Regions from separate parts of the Homo sapiens genome. Here region 1 is linked to region 2. Evidence: fine-mapped expression QTL. A gene starts in region 2. The other region holds a variant in brackets. All regions are shown on one strand. Distances are from middle to middle. Region 1 overlaps ITGAV (integrin subunit alpha V). Region 2 holds the start of FAM171B (family with sequence similarity 171 member B).

The links.
Region 1: its variant is fine-mapped to the expression of FAM171B in sigmoid colon (GTEx, PIP above 0.99). The same link has a PIP of 0.9 or more in esophagus mucosa, esophagus muscle, sun-exposed skin and unexposed skin.

What each region holds. Positions count from the first base shown.
Region 1 is chr2:186,664,547-186,673,500 of GRCh38, reverse strand. It overlaps ITGAV (integrin subunit alpha V), which reads right to left. Exons shown (of 30, transcript NM_002210.5): 20 at 8,860-8,954; 21 at 8,283-8,375; 22 at 6,718-6,797; 23 at 6,271-6,351; 24 at 5,725-5,830; 25 at 4,581-4,739; 26 at 3,687-3,800. Among named protein-coding and RNA genes, the nearest start is that of FAM171B, 25 kb to the left of the region's middle. The variant A/C (reference allele first, on the strand shown) is at 4,045.
Region 2 is chr2:186,689,856-186,698,809 of GRCh38, reverse strand. It overlaps FAM171B (family with sequence similarity 171 member B), which reads right to left and starts at 4,750. Exons shown (of 8, transcript NM_177454.4): 1 at 4,399-4,750. The coding sequence starts at 4,636. RefSeq lists a silencer at 4,587-4,946.

The sequences.
Region 1 (8,954 bases), 25 kb after region 2:
TAGCAATACTCCCTAGGTTGCTCAAGAAAATTGCTACCAAAATTCCAACTACCTTGTCTGCAGAAATGGACAAGCTGATCCTAAAATCCACATGGAATCGCAAGGGACTCTAACCAAAATAATCTTAAAAGGAATAAAATGTATTCATATTTCCCTATTTCAAAACCTGAACTCCAGAGCTATGGTAATCAAAACAATTTGTTACTTGTATTAAGGATATACATATAGGTCAACTGAATAGAACTGAATGTCTAGAAATAAATCCATATATTTATAATCAATTCATCTCCAACAAGACTGCCAAGACCATTTAAGGGGAAAGAATAATTTCTTCAACAAATGTTGCTCAGACAGGTGGATAGCCACACACAAAAGAATCAATCTGGACCCCTACCTCACACCATACACATAAATTAACCCAAAATGAATCAGGGATGTAAATGTAAGAGCTGTAAGTGTAAAACTTATAAAACCAAAAAGCCTAGGTATGAATCTTCATGACCTTGTATTGGGCAATGGTTTTAAAAATATGATGACAAAATTACAAGCAACAAAAGAAGACATAGATAAATTGAACTTCAGATTTAAAAATTTTTGTGCATTAAAGGACACCATCAAGAAAGTAAAAAGACAGTTCACACAGAATGAGACAAAACCTGTGCAATCATATATCTAATGAAGGTAGTATCCAGAATATATAAATAACTCTTTGCAACTCAACAATAAAAGGCAAATAACCCAATTTAAAAATGGGCAAAAAATTTGAATAGACATTTGTCTAAAAAAGATACACAACTGAAAAGATGCTGAATATCATCAGTCTACAGGGAAATGCATATCAAAACCACAATGAGTTACTTCTTCACACCAACCAGGATGATTATAAAAATTTTAAAACAAACAAAAGCAGAAAATAATAAGTGTTGACAAAGATGTGGAGAAAATAGGACCCTCATATATTGCTGGTTGGGATTGCAAAATGCTGCAGCAACTTTGGAAAATAGTTTGGCAGTTCCTCCAAAAGTTAAACATAGAGTTTCCACATGACCTAGCAATTGCACTCTTATGTTTATTCTCAATAAAACTGAAAAACATGTTTACATGGAAATTTATGCATCAATGTTCATAGCAACACATTCAAAACAGACAAAAAGTAGAAATAATCGAAATGTTGATCAACTGATAAATAGATAAACAAAAGGTGGTATGTCCACACAATGGAGTATTATTCAGGCATAAAAATGAAGTACTGGCTGGGCATGGTAGTTCACGCCTGTAATCCCAACACTTTGGGAGGCCGAGGCGGGCGGATCACGAGGTCAGGAGATCAAGCATCCTGGCTAACATGGTGAAACCCCGTCTCTACTAAAAACACAAAAAAATTAGCCGGGTGTGGTGGTGGGTGCCTGTAGTCCCAGCTACTCGGGAGGCTGAGGCAGGAGAATGGCGTGAACCCGGGAGGTGGAGCTTGCAGTGATCCGAGATTTCGCCACTGGACTCCAGCCTGGGTGACAGAGCGAGACTCTGTCTCAAAAAAAGAAAAAAAAAAAAAAAAGGAGTACTAAGGCACACCACAACATAGATCTTGAAAACATGCTACATGAAAGAAGGCTAGACACAAAAGGCCATATGTTGTATGATACTATATGTATGAAATGTCCAGAATAGGCAAATCAGTAGGAATGCAGATTAGTGGTCACCAGGGGCTGGTGATAGGGGAGAATGGATAAACTGCTTAATGGGTACAGCATTTCTTTTTGGGGTGACAAAAATGTTTACAATTATAGTGGTAATGGTGGTTCAATGTTGTAATTATACTAAAAAACACTAAATTATGCACTTTAAAATCATTAAAATGGTTAATTTTGTGTAAGTTTTGTCTCAATTAAAGAAAACAGATTCTGAAGGAGGACAGAAAGTGCAAGATCAAAAGTGGGGTTGGGAGGTAGAAGGCAGTTTCTATTTCACATGGGTTGGTCAGGGAAGATCTCTGACATAATTTTACTTTTAAGGACATGAGAAGGATATGGGAAAATAAGCCACAAGGATATCTGGACAAAGAATTCCAGGCAGATGGAAGAGCAATTTTCAAAGCATGGAGGAATAAACATGCTTGGGGCTATCTGTTCAATGAAAGCAAGGTGGAAAATTTGAGAAAGAGAATAGTAAGGAGAGGAGATGCAAGCAGAGAGGCAGGAAGGGCCTGTTGATGTTGGGCTTAAAGGTCATTGTAGCCTCTTGCTTTCTCATTGAGTTAGATGGGAAGGCACTGGAGTGACACAACCTGACCTATATTTAAAAGGATCACTGGGGCTTCTATAGCATACAAAGTATAGTGGGGAGAAAGGCAGAAATACAGAGGCCAACCAGGGGTCTGGCAATAGTCCAATCGAGAAGGGAAAGGAGCCTGGGTTAGGTTGTGTTAGTGATGAAACTGGTGAGAAGGGGCCAGATTCTAGGTATTTTGAAAGAAAATACTGATGCAATTTGCTGAAATACAAGACGTGAGATTTGAGAGAAAGAGAGGAGTCAAGCATGAGGTCCAGGTGTTAGAGAATGAAGTTGGTATTTACTAAAATCAACTAAGAACTTTATGGAAAGAGCAGACTTGGGAAAACCCAAGGGTATATATTTAGAATTGTTTGAGATTCCTATTAGATATTTAAAAGCAGTTTCTAGTAGGCAGTTGGATATTGGAATCTGAAGTTCAATGCAGAAGATCAGACTGGAAATATAAATCAAAGCATCTACACCACATGGTATTTACAGCCATGAGAGTCAACAGAAGGAAGTGATTAAGTGAACCAAAGCCACTAGGCAATTGAATGGTTGAGGACTAACAAGAACCACAGAATTTGGTGATGTAAAAGTAACTAGTGATCACTATTGAACATAAACAGTGCTGGGCATGGTGGTTCATGCCTGTCATCCCAGCACTTTAGGAGGCTGAGGTGGGCAGATCGCTTGAGCTCAGGAATTTGAGACCAGCCTGGGCAACATGGTGAAACCTCATCTCAACAAAAAATACAAAACTTAGCTGGGCATGGGGGAGAGCGCCTATAGTCCTAGCTACTTGGGGGACTGATAGGGGAGGATTGCTTGAGCCTGGGAGGTCAAGGCCTCAGTGAGCTGTGTTTGTGTCATTGCACTCCAGCCTGGGTGACAAAGTGAGGCTCTGTGTCAAAAAACAAACAAACAAACAAACAAAAAACACTATACCAGGTTCTCTACTAGAGATCTGGAGATTTGTTAATTAAAAGAAAAAAGAAAAACAATTGCCTTTAAAAACATTATAGCCATTATATAGGCTAACTCAACAAAGGTTAATCAAGTGCTAATTATTATTCCAATGTATTTTTGTTGGGACCTTCTGGATTTTTTAGTATCGTACTAAAGCCTCAGAGATTAGGAGGAGGCCCAGAAAGAGGACAGTTAAAGAACTAGAGTAGGAGAATCAAAGTTGGGACATAAACTAGTTTTATTAGCCATCTACAAAAATAGCTCATTTGAAGAAAATATGGCATTAATCTGACTAGGAAAAAGGAAAGTGAGAGGAATGCATGGTATAAAAATAAATGTAGTTGTTCAAGCACAGCTGTTGTTATTTTTGAAATGTTCTTTGGCGTCAGTTCTATAGTCACATATTTTTAAATGTCTATGGTGCACATATTTGAAATGGCACTTACCAAAGTGTGAATATCTCCTTCACTGAGGGCAAGATCCCGCTTAGTGATGAGATGGTCCCGCTCACCTTGCCCGGCAACCGTGTCATTCTTTTCAGTTGTTTGCAAAGATGAGATCTAATGCAATCACATTAATAAAATGGTGGTAAATGATAATGAAAAACATTTTACATCAGCATTTTGATATAAACTCTTAGATATGATTAAAAAATAGTGAATGAAAATTTAGTATGACAGAATATTTACCACTCAGTATATAGTGAGCAGTAAGGACAGAAAATAAAGATTAGAGTCTTTAATATGTACCAAAAAAGTTAGCTCTCCCTAACCATTATTTTCAGCCCTTGCTTAGCTAGAGTGG[A/C]AACTGATGAAACATACAGAAATGGCCTGAAATTCCACAGTACATTTGTGATGTCAATCATGGGTATATCTTTTATTTTGTTTCTTCACCTTTCCTTAGATCATATTGTGTAATAGTTTCTAGTGCAAATCTATGATGGAGATGACTATATCCAAAAGTCAAGATAATCATGAGTAAAATGGTATAGCTTATCCCAAAGGTAGAAATTTTAACAACAAAACACCCTTGATGTGATATTATGCCCTGAAGAAACAACAACGTGATGGAGCCAAGGTCAAACTGAGTCACTGAAGGACACATCTCATGAGGCTCAGTAAGCACTCTATGAAGATGTGGTTCACTAGACATCACAGAATCAATTCTTACCCATTATACAAATGAACTTATCCTAAGTGTACTGCTTATGAACTAAACCATTTTTTGCAGAGTGGGTTTTATATTAAAATAGTTGTTTTATTTTATGAATTTCTTTTACAGGTTTAGAAAGAAGGCAATGAAATATCATTGTAATGAAGAGCTGCTATTAAGCATATTACCTTAATTCTCAAAGGGTTGATCTCCATATCTGAAGTGCAGTTCATTGGTCCATCAATATCATAATGAAGGATATACAACAGAGTGTTATTATTATATTTGTAAGGCCACTGAAGATGGAGCATTGCCTTGCTGAATGAACTTGGACCATTGTTTCTCAGCTAAGGAGAAAAAAGAAAATGTATCTACACCTTGGGCAAAAATCTGTTCCATAATCCTTCCCCTACATCAACTTTAGAAATCATGTTAGCAATAGGTTTTAAATAACAGCAATTTCCACAGTTAACCTCTAATTACAATGTGACCATTTTTATGCAAAAATGATCAAACTCAACATTTGTCTCTAACACAGAGTAATATGTGTCAGGATAAAAATATAAACAAGGTTGGGCACAGTGGCTCATGCCTGTAATCCCAGCACTTTGGGAGGCCGAGGCGGGCGGATCTCTTGAGGTCAGGAGTTCATGTCCAGCCTGGCCAACGTGGTGAAACCTGTCGGTGAAACCCTGTCCCTACTAAAAATACAAAAATTAGCCGGGCATGGTGGTGCACACGTGTAATCCCAGCTACTCAGCAAGCTGAGGCAGGAGAATCGCTTGAACCCGGGAGGTGGAGTTTGCAGTGAGCTGAGATCGCGCCACTGCACTCCAGCCTGGGCGACAGAGCAAGACTTCACCTCAAAAAAAAAAAAAAAAAAAAAAAAAAATATATATATATATATATATATATATATATATGTATGTATGTATAAACAAAAGGCAAAATATTTAAAAGTTATTAATGAAGGATGACAAAGAAAATTTCTTCCTATAGAAATAGTTTTGATTATTTGCCATAGGTATTTTCAATTTTTAGCCAGAACTACAAAATGCCCATGAGAAAGTACCAATGACATTTCTTTATTCAAGTAGAACTAATTTATTTTAAACAACAAATTATATAAACTGCTTTATTTAAACAAGTCTATTTGTCAAATAAAAATGAATTTATGTATAGGGAAAATATTCAAAGAAATCTCTGACACATACTTAACCAATGTAGAGTTTACATAAAAATTACATAGAATTTTTTTTTTAAAGTAGCTTAGTTGTTCCTCTCTTCGTTGGCTTGCTCACGAGGTTTGAGTAAAATCTAACAACTGCAAACCTCATAGATGTGCTGAACAACTGGCCCAACATCTTCTTCAGTCTCAGGGTTCTCCTTGTGCTCCCAGTTTGGAATCGGAAGAAAGACATGATCAGGACTCGAGACTCTAAACAATGACCAAAGAAAACCTACCATGAATATCAAAATGATATAGTCAGTTCATTTTCAAAAGTACCCCATATTCATTACTCAAATAAATAAAATTAGATTTAATTTTAAAAAATACTTTAAAAGAAAACTAATGAACACACACATGCACAAAAACTGCTCTTATGAAATGTACACGTAACAGGTGAATTGACAATTTGTGTAAAAGTTCAACAAAATTATTTTGTGCATGTTGTTGCCATGTCTTGTTCCTTTTGAGGATCACCCAGTATTGGGGGTTTGGAACATACCTAGGATTTTATTTCTACAGAAGCTAATGCCCTAGTAAAACCACCACTAAACATGCAGGGTCTATTGTCCAGAAAAGGCTAAGGCCTGACAGTTACCTTTAAAAAGCAATCATGAGAATGAGATACTCAACTAAGTATTCATACTGACCCTCTTATCTCAACTGCAGCTAAAACAGCAAGATCAACTTTGTGAGATACAACTGGGCTTACTTTGTCAAATAGATTTGAGCTGAAAAAGAAAAAAAAAAACTTAAAAATGAATTATGCATAACAACCAAGAACATACAGAGGCAAACCCAGTGAAACTAAAAATTAACAAACGAAACAAGTGTAAAGCTTATACCTCAAAATAGTTATTTTCATTAACACTTAATTCCAAGAAGATGAACATTTTCTTTCTGGATTTTAAATTTTGTTTTACAAACTCAAATCTGACAATAAAATTATTCTTATAATGTAAATATTGATTTTAAAATGCTATAGTCAAGCAATAAAATTTAATCTGCTACTTTATATTTAAAGTATATTACATAGTATATTTACAACAAATAATATTTATTTGATAGTTATAAGTGAATATAAGTTGTTTTCATACCTTTGGATTTGTAAGTCAAATTTCACAGAAGTATCCATCTCTGACTGCTGGTGCACACTGAAACGAAGACCAGCTAAGAGCTAAAGGAGAGAGGAAAAGATAGTAATGCTAGTCAATGTCTAATTAGCAAAATTTCAAATCCAATGTCTAAATAAAAAATAATGTTCTAAAATGGGGTTTTTCTGAGCTTACAATAAAACTGAACAAAGATAACTAAATCTTATTTTCTATCAAACCTATTTTACTTAATATACCTGGACCAATCCATAAGAGAGCCTATTTAACAACAATTATTAATCATAATTATACCTCCTTATAATACTAACCATCTTTCTAAAAAGTGCAAAAGTAAATGTTTGTTGATCCAGTGAAAGTCTAGCAACTGGGTACAATAATTTGATAACACGAAGCTAACCACCAAAGTATGTGCTGTGTTCATAGGCCAGGAAAGAAGAAATGGATGGTTTACTAGAGTAAGGGAACATGGCTAAAGAAGGCATGAGTAGGGCCACAACCAGAATTTCTCCACACACCTCTCATAACACTCCCAACACCAAATATCCTAATTCCTGCAGGCAGAAAATTGGTAGATTTTAAATAAAACAATTGAACCACCAGGTACAAAAAAGAAGGCTTCTTGGGGATCACACAAATGACATATAAAAACAGTACTTCCTGGGTTCTGCCTCCCACTCCACAAAACCTGGAGCTGGCTACTTGTAATAAGCAGAAACTATATAATAACCAGAAAGTTAGAGAGAATGAGAATATGAGAAAATAAAAGGCATGCTCATTGTTAATAAAACATTGAATACACGTGAAAAACTGAACTTAGGGTAATTTGTTCAAGTTCTCATCCCTAAGATACCATACATCTAGAAATACTAATGACTTGTAATAGAAAACATACTAAAGAAATATGGAATATTTAGACCTGTATTACCACAGATCTTCAAAGTACCAGTATCAATAAGTCATTAAATAAATTCTATTGAAAAAGTCACACAGCATATGCTGCCATTTTGTCCTTGCTACTAGAAATTCTACAAGGTATATTTTGTTTACTTTTTAGAGGATTCGGAAAGCAAGCCATTGGCTGCTTCTTTTCAAGCTCCTGGGCACCCTGCTCCACCATCTGAAGGGGAGCCTGATTTAACTGACCTTCACTTTGATCCTCTGTGTGGGGCCTGTGATGGAATCTAGCTCACCTAGGATTGACAGTCTTGGTAGTTGCCAGAGTAGCTTTTCAGGATCCATTAAGGCATCAGTGTAAAATAGCAAAAATTATTATTTCAGTCCTTAGTTTAAACCACGTTCTCATCCATTCACTAAAGTGAAGGAGGCATAAAGAGCAGCTGATTGCAAACCGTGTAGGAGCACAACCAATTGTTTTCGTATCTTAGTTAAAACTAAGCAAAACTCTGCTAATCATTTAACTATTATATCGAAACCAATTTAAGGACATTGTTTTGAAGTGTTTATTTTTAAAAATTACTATGAGCCCAGACAACAATATGCTTTTCTATTTGCCAGGGAGAAAAATCCGTTTAATTAAATTGTCTTACTTGAGTTCCAGCCTTCATTGGGTTTCCAAGGTCACATACCACCTGGCGAGTTTGGTTTTCTGTCTTAAATGCACAGGAAAGTCTTGCTAAGGCCTTTGATAGACCAAAAAAAAAAAAAAAAATGGATATGAAAGGAAATAAAGTATCACGCAGTTGGATATTTCAGTTTCTTGTCCTAAGCAAATAAATCTAGTTGAGCAAACCAGGAGGTAAGGAAAAAGCCAGAATTGGGTACAATTGCCACATGGAAATGCAGAAGTGTTTCTGAAAGATCCCTAGAGGACTACCATACAAAACCATACAGCCTCTGACAAATAATTTGATGGACAGGCTTAGACACTTTATCTATCTAACCTTGTTTCCAGGCACTTAGCTTGCAATTCTAAAAATGTCATATCAATGCATTATGCAAAGTATTAGGCTTAAAAGGAATTATGTAAGATAGGCACTCCATTGTCTATCAATTTAGCCTTAGGTAGAATAGCTAAGCTTGTGCTTCACTAAATAGGGGAACAGCTCATTAATGTTAATAAGATCCGTGAGTGCATTTCAATTTTTAAAGAGGCAGCCTGCTTACTTCATTGTTTCGGACAACCCCGATGAAATCAGCCTGCAGTGGAATGGAAACGATGAGCTCAGCTTCGTAGGCACCTTCTCCTTGATTCTGAGCCT
Region 2 (8,954 bases):
TACCAGAGTCTGGGAAGGGTATTGGGAGTGGGGAAGAAGTGGGGATGGTCAATGAGTATAAAAATATAGTCAGGTAGAACGAATAAGATCTACTACTTGATAGCACAACAGGGTAAATATAGTAAACAATAACTTATTGTACATTTTAACATAACTGAAAGTATAACTGGAATGTTTGTAACACAAATGATAAATGTTTACCCTGATGTGATAATTATACATTTTATGCCTGTATCAAAATATCTCATGTAGCCCATAAATATATACACCTACTGTGTTCCCATAAAAATTAAAAATTAAAAACAAATCCCACGTAGTGGAAACAGGTAGAAGTATGGGTGAAAAAACAATGGCAGAATTTTGACCATTGTTAAAGCTAGGTGACAGGTATAGGCTTTTATTACACTATCCTGTTTACTTTCTATATATTTAACATCTTGCGAAATAAAAAGTTTAAAAATAGATATCACTGAAATATGCAATCAAAAATTTTCACACCATGAAAATATACCTCTCAAGAAGCTTTCTCTGTACTGAAAAGACATTTCTATGATCCCTGGAGATCCCCTGTGTCTCTGCTTCACATGGAGAATTTTAAATGGAGCTCATTATTTTTCTCCAGCTCCTCTCTCCCCCAACCCCAGCATGCCTCCCATCTAATGGGCCATCAGAATTAATATAATATGGTTGTCCCAACTACCACTAGCTCCCAGATTAATTCTTCTCAGGACCCTCAAATATTTCTAACAAATACTGGTACAGATGGAGAAATAAGAGCTGTTGTATACACTGGAGAAAACAATTGATTTGATGGATACCAACCTTAGTCTTTATTTTCACTGCTCTCTGAAGATGGAGTTTTTATAAGTTAATGAGAAAATGGAAATGTACTTTTTTAAATCCTGATTTTTAAAAAATGTTCACATTCAAGTTTTTTTTTAATCTTGCTTTCTTGTTTCTCAGCAATACAAAGAGACATAAATTTTTAGAATAATAAAATCCAGAGAATACTAAGCAAAGGCAATGGTGAGTTTCTCTACTATGGACTGATAAGGCTTAGTCATATATCAGTCATTGAATGTGTCATATTTGTTTTCTAAATTTTGCCTGAGAAAAGTCCTACAGTTTTTCATGTGGCATGTCCAAAGAATCAGAAGCATCATACAGCGGTAAAGAATGAATGCAAGCTCAATCACAGCTATTTAAAGGTATATATGTTAAAATCCTCCTAGGTCATAAGAAGATTAAGTATACTCAGGTAAAGAATTATGGTTCATGCTTGTAAACCAACATTTTGGGAGGCTGAGATGGGAGGATTGCTTGAGCCCAGAGTTCCAGAGTTTGAGGCTAGCCTGAGCAACAAAGCAGGACCCTATCTCTACAAAAAGAAAAAAATTAAAAATTAGCTGGGCCCAGCGGCACGCATCTGTAGTTCAGCTATTCAGGAGGCTGTGCCCAGGAGGTTGAGACTGACTTGAGCCATGATCACGCCACTGCACTCAACCCTGTCTCAAAAAAAACCCCAAATTCTTCACAAAACCCAATAAGTAGGCCCAAGTATAGGTATCAATCAGTTTTCTGTAGTCAGCATAAGATAAACACTGAAATTAACTAAAATTAAAGATCCAAAATTTACATACTTTATAACTTCTACTTACAAACTTTCCTACATAACGTTTATCTTTATAAATCCCCTGCTAAACTCCAATGGAGAATTTATCCAATGAAGACGAACAAATGCTGAGAAAGTGAATTCATTCATTCATTCATCCATCCATCCATCCATCCATCCATCCATCCATCCGTCCATCCATTCAACAAATGGTTGAATGTCTATGGGTACCAACCAGGTGCTCTTCGAGATACTAGAAATATAGCAGTGAACAAAACAAAGTCCATGTTTTCACAGAGCTTATGTTCTATCAAGGGAAAAACAGGCTTATTAGAACAGCTGAGAATAATGAGTACCATGGAGGAGAATGAATCTGGGTAAGAGCAAAAAGGATGTGCAGATTACTATTTTAAACACCTGGTCAGGAAAAGGTCTGTCAGTTACTGAGACACTTGAGCAAACCTGAAAAATGTGAAGTTCCAGAATTCCAGGCAGAGAAAATGGCAAGTGCAAAGGCCAAACACTTGGGTCCACTTGCAAGCTAAAGAAAATAGAGCTAGTGTGGCTACAGTGGAGAGAGTTAGGGTAAGGGCTAAAGGAGACGGGAGGAAAAGGAGGATACAAAGGATCTAGACCTTGGTAGGCCATTTTCACGATCTGGGCATCTAGTATGAGAGAGACGGGAAGCCATTGGAGGAGTGTGGGCAGAAATGATCCTATTTAATGTTTTTTTTTTTTTTAAAGATCGCTAGCTGTGTGAGGAGAACAGACAGTAGGGAAACAAAGGTTGAAACAGGAAGACCAGTTCAATGGAGAGATCACAATGCATTCAAAGGAATATTTTAACTTCATTTGTCTATAAGCTGTGTTGCATTATAAGACTCAATATTCCAATAACTAAAACAGCAATCAATTGAATTACTCCCTTGTTTGCCACTGGCTTGGGTAATTAGAGTTTTTGAGGAAGAAGAATCATCATAGGTTACTTCTCAGGTTCTAGTTTGATCTATCGAAGAGTGTGGTTCCTTTATCTCAATCTAATAGGTAAATAAAACAAAAACTGCTAATTTCCCAGACAATCAGCTTTTTCAGAATATTCCCTCACAAATATCAGAAAGCAAACATTTTAATTTGCATGCTGGATTCAGGTTTCATATTATTGCAGTAGTTCATAACCCTAATCACAACATATATATATATATTACAGTAGTCAAAATTCATTTAATATTCCTGAAAGGTCCATTGAAATAAAAATATACTGCAAACCATAAAACCCACCAACACTCTCCCAGACTTCGGCTTCATAGTGAATTTATGAAATATCTCTATTAATGAGGCCAATCAATCTGATATATCCAATTTCCTTAACTTTAGCGAACAGTATGTCTAACAGCAGCCTCACCCAAACCATATTATCACTTTCAGTTATTAAAAGCTGGGTAGGAAAACCACCATACACTGTATACCTTTCAAGACTTTTAGCCACACTTGAGTGTTATTAATTGGTTTAAGAGGGTGTCAGAAACACATGCTTTCCTGCACACTTTGGTGATTTCATCCTATGCTCAGAGCACTCTGATAAATTAAATCATCCTGGCTGTGTCATGAATCGCAGCTGGCATGCCTGTGTACTGCTTTTTGACGATGAGCAAGCAATACAAAATGTGATGCTGATTCCACTCTTTCAAATCTCATTTTCAGCACTCATATAGTGTTACCAGGCAGGATTTTAAAACAAAAACAAACGTCATAATAAAATTCACTTTGGTTTCACAAAACCTAAGCCCTCGTGCCAGAAAATTGGAGGCTTTTTTTCTTTCCAAATAGCAGACAAGAATCTACAGCCATGAAGCGAAGTGGGTTGCGGGGTAGGGAGATGCAATATACATGGATAATCTAGCTATTTGCTTACCGATGGAGCTTTAATGGGGGGAAAGAGGGAGGAACTGCGGAACTGTTACAGCCACCTATACTACAGCCGTATTTCTACACCTTCACTGAACAGTGTCAAGAATCTGCCTCATTTAAGTTCTACTAACAAGTAAGGAGATTTCTCTCTCTAGGGATAGGCTTTTGCTGTTCTAACACCACTCCAGACTTCACCTTATGTGTCCCCCTCTCCTTTTCCCTTTCCTTCAATTACAAACTCCTGTTTTGTTTTGCTTCATCTTATTGTACTAAAAGAGTTCTTTGCAATAAGATGAACCCTTAAACCCTTCCTGGGGTAAAGAGAAAGAGAAATAAATAATAAAATATATAAAGATTTCTCTCTTCATGGCTAAATTTAAATATAGCAGGCATGGAGAAATGGTGAAAAGGGGTGTGTGGGTGTCCATGGCAAGATTTCTCAGTCTCTAGGAGAGAAAAGGATAGAGAACAAAATGTTTAAGGGATTTAAGAACGGTGTGTGTGTGTGTGTGTGTGTGTGTGTGTGTGTGTGTGTGTGTGTTACAGTCATTCCCAGGGCAGAGGGTAGAATTCAGGAAGAAGGGAGGGAAAAGAAAAAGATCAATCCAGGCAGTCACCCACCCCCAGCCTTCCCGACCCCTCTCCAACCCACCGCAGTGCTCTGAGCTGCTCAGAAAGCTCATTACCCGGAGGGCAGATTCCCGACACCAGATCAAGGGACCAAAGGCTGGGCAGCCAGTCTGGGGAGAGAGATCGGGAGGGATGGTGACAGGAACGAACGAGGATAGGAATGGATAGGGAAGGGGCGAGGAAGCCGGCGAGGCCCTAAGAGATCGCCGGCCGAGACTGAAAGACCGGGCTGGGCAGCCAGGACCTACCTGGAACCGTCAAGGTGGAGGTTGCCCCAGGCACCTCTGTCCTCTCCTCCTCAGCCTCCTCCAGCTGCTTTTGCTGTTGTTGTTGTTGTTGCTGCTGCTGCTGCTGCTGTTGGATGAGGCTGAGGTCGGAGCGGCTGAGTTCCGCTCTGGCGGCCGCGGGGACCAGCCGCGCTTTCAGCAGCACCACGGCCAGGCCGAGAAGCAGGGTGCAGGGGACACGCCGGCAGAGCCTCGCCATGGCCTAGAGCCAGAGGGCCGCGGCGGCATATTGCGGGGCTCCGGGCGGCGGCGGGCGCCAGGGCTGCGGGCTCCTGGCAGCGCCCGCTCGCTCGCTCCCCCTCGCGCAATCTGCCAAGCACTCCCTCACCGGCAGGAGGAAGAGGCCCGGGAGGCGGAGGGGGCGGAGGAGGAGGGAAGGGGAGTTCGCATCCTCGCGCATGTGACGCGCGGGGAGGGGCGAGCCGGGGCCCGCGGTCCCGCGCCCCGCAGCCACCTGGGGCCAGGCTGCTCCGAGAGGACGCGATGCTGGGGCTGCAGCCCGGGTGGAGGGCCCTAGGGGAAACAGAAAGGGGAGGCCTTCTGGGAGCTGGTAGACCCTCACAGCGTCCACTTCCCACTGAGGCACCGGGAAGATTTGCAGAGAGTGGAATAAAATTCCTTCCACCTGAGCCCAAAGTAGCAGAGAAGGTGGTATATTGATTACCCCCATCCAGCACATAGCGTGGGTGGCACCAACGGATCAAAAAGCCAGGATCTCAAACAAATAGGCTTTGCTGCATCACCGCCATCATTGCTTAGCTAGAAGTTAAACTGCAGCGCGCCAGATTTTGACTAAACTTCTTTTCTCTGCCCTAGTGGGAATTTCTTTCCATATCATTAAATATTCTTAATTACATTTTATCTAATTCTAGCCTATCCTTTTCATTTGTTCAAAAAAATCTTACTAAATACTAGTTGCTTACCATGTGCCAGCATTTCTTCAGGTGCTTGGAATAAGTAAAATACAATCCCTGCATTCCAGGAGCTCAACATCTATTAGGGGAGAGGAACACAGGAACAAATTAGAACCCAATGTGGTGGCTACAAACAGAAAAGCAATACAAGTCCAGAGGTCTCAGAATTGGAAGAAAATATCTTGTGTATGTAGGGGCTATGAAACACCAGGAGAGGTAGAATATAAAAAAGAGTAAGACTTCCACACAGGAGAAATCAGGAACGTGGAAGAGTGTGTGTGTGTGTGTGTGTGTGTGTGTGTGTGTGTGTGTGAAGCCCAGATGTGTGTAAGCACAGTGGGCTTGCAAAAGTGTGAGCAATTATTCTAATGGAGGAATGACAGTGTTTTAGATTGAAAAGGAGAGTGGAGACCAGGTCATTAAAAAAATAATAATAACAAGCATTTCTATAGTACTTACTGTGTGCTCAAGTACTTCACATTTGTTAACTTCTGTAATAAACTTAGATGCTGTATACAGAAATTGAAATTCACACAGTAGATGATAATGAAAGAAATTAATCAGGGAAGAAACTTGCTACCAGTTGTGCATTTTAGGAGGATCACTTTGCTCTCAGTATGGCAGATGGATTAAAGGGGGATAAATTGGAAGAGAAGATGCCAGTTTAGAGGTGTTTGCCAAAACCCATAGGAGATGCCAAAGGTCATTGAAACTGAAAAGGAGAAGAAAAGAGTAGGAGACACAGTATATAAGACTACAATAAACAGATACGGTTAATTGGAAGAGGAGGAGATATGCCTAGTGTGACACCTAAATTGACAAATTGAGATCTTAGGTGGCTGCTTATGACCTTATCAACATTAACTGGCCTAGAGTAATGAGCCCTGCCTTGTTCAGTTGTGGTCTCTTTGTATTTGGAGTAACTGTGGGACATCTCATAGTGCAATATAAATGTCACCTGCTGTGACATCACCCCATTTACCATTGTAGTTCATTGTCCTTTTCCACCCTTATCATTCTTACCTTGTCCCTCCCAGTGTTTTCAATATGCTGGAAAACAACAAACTTCTCAGTACTGGAAAAGTATTTTTTGGTTAAGCAAATGAAAATAGTGTATATATAACTAATGGTTTAGATGTTTTGTCCTTTCCAAATCTCATATTGAAATGTGACCTCCAATGTTGGAGGTGGGGCCTAGTGGAAGGTCTTTGGTTCATAGAGGAGAATCCCTCATGAATGGCTTGGTGCCCTCTTCATGGTAATGACTGAATTCTTGCTCTGAGCTCACAAGAGATCTGGTTGTTTAAAAGTGTGGCAACTCCCTTCTCTCTCTCGCTTGCTCCCTCTCCTGTCATGTGACACGCTGTCTCCCTTTCACCATCCACCATGATTGTAAGCTTTCTAAGGTCTCACCAGAGCAGATGCCAGCACCACACTTGCGTTGTACAGCCAGCAGAACTGACCTAAAGTAAACCGCTTTTCTTTATGTCACCCGAAGTTTACTGCAATGCAAATGGACTGACACAATAACCATAAATAAAATAACAGTAGGTATTTTGCATCTATTATCTCATTATATCTTCAGAGCATCTCTACAAATTAGCTCTCATTATCCTATTTAGCAAATGGAAACACTGGAGATCAGAGAGGCTCCATGTCTTGCCAGAGGCTACATTTACAGTGTGTGACTTTACCTTTCTGCACCGTTTGAGACTTCTGCTATGAGTTTGTATTGCTTTTTTAGTGATTTTAAAACAAAAATAAGGTATGTGGACCACATAATTTTGGGGAAAATAGATACTAAAGTGAGGCCCCTCACACTAAACATCATTCTTCCATCAGGACTTTCTTTCCCTGGTCTGTGTGAGGCAGGAGCCATTGGGGGAGGGGGCTCCAGAGCTGAAGGCAGCAAGTTTCCATTAGTTTCATCAAGCTGTTTTTATGGCAATCTCTTCCAAGTTACCTCTGCTCCTGGAGAGAAGAAAGGAGAAAATGGAAATGGCTCCAAAAACCTGACTGGTGGATCAGAAGGAAAGGAATGCAGCCAGGATTTCTGTCATCCTGCCTTGGGGTAGCCAAGTTATTTTTAATATAGTAGAAGCAGACCTTCTGGAGGCAAAGCCACTGGGTCATGGACCCTGGTAGAGGGTGGACCTCAAATCTTTCAATACTATGGACTGTTTTAAGAGGTAAGTGTTGTCAATCAAGAGTATTTAAATAGTTTTTAAGTGCTTCATTATTCGTGTAGTTCATGCTTAATTTCTGTGCAATATAAAAAAGCCATATTATCCGATTCAATTGGGGATAGTACTTGGCAAATGAAAAAAGTTCATCAAAAGACCAAAGTCAATACATCCTAAATATATCTTAAGCCACATATTTTACCCTAGAATAAATAAATATATATTTGTTCACAAATCTTTTGATGTAGGGCCAAGAATTTCAACCACATCCTAGAGTTTGAAGTCATAAACCACAGTTATGATATACCACTATGATTTGCAGGTTTAGTTTAAGTGGAAGTTCTCAAAGACCCTTGCCACACAATTAGAGTGCCAAGTCATTCTATGTTCAATTTTTTTCCCAAGCTTGTAGAATTTTCTCATATACTTAGTATTAAACTTATATTTTATTTTATTTTATTTTTTGAAACAGAGTCTCGCTCTTGTCTTCCAGGCTAGAGTGCAATGGAAAAATCTTGGCTCACTGCAACCTCCACCTCCTGGGTTCAAGCGATTCTCCTGCCTCAGCCTCCTGAGTAGCTGGGATTACTGGTGCATGCCACCACGCCTGGCTAATTTTTGTATTTTTAGTAGAGACAGGGTTTCGCCATGTTGGCCAGACTGGTCTTGAACTCCTGACCTCAGGTGATCGCCCGCCTCAGCCTCCGAAAATGCTGGGATTACAGGCGTGAGCCACCACACCTGGCCTAAACTTAGTTTTAATAGGAAAAATTTACTTATCTCAAATCCATATTGTATATATTCCTTATCACACATATAACTGGCAAAAAAGAAAAAGTTTGTGAAAAATATAACTGACTTTTGGCACAGGCACAACCAAATGACAGGAGTAAACATAGGCAGACATTCAGGAAGATGTAAGCTGATAACTACATTTGCCCTAAATGTTTGTCTGTGTGTTTTACAAAGGAATGAAAAATGCCAGTTAATCCAGCAAGTTATTTTCAGGTACATAGTCCATGATAAAGTTTATGCTAAACACAATGTAATCGTTAAGGTTAGAAATTCATCATTTTTAGAAAAATGCCCCAAGAGCCATCAGAAAGCAAAGCACAATACTATACACATATAATTCTTCCCCACTTAAAACCTACTGGTACCTCCTCATTACTCTTAGCACAAATCCAAAATTCCTAACATGATTTACAAAGCCGTTTGCAATATGTCCCCTGACTACCTAGGTTCAGGTTCATTTTAAAAATTTTCCTGCATACACACACACACACACACACACACACACACACACACACGGGAGTTTCTTCTATTCCTTTGAACTAGATTTGAGTTGCCCCTAGACCTTTAAATATGTGATTTTCCCTGCCTAGAAGTCTACTCCTTTACCCGTTTAACTGGCAAGTTC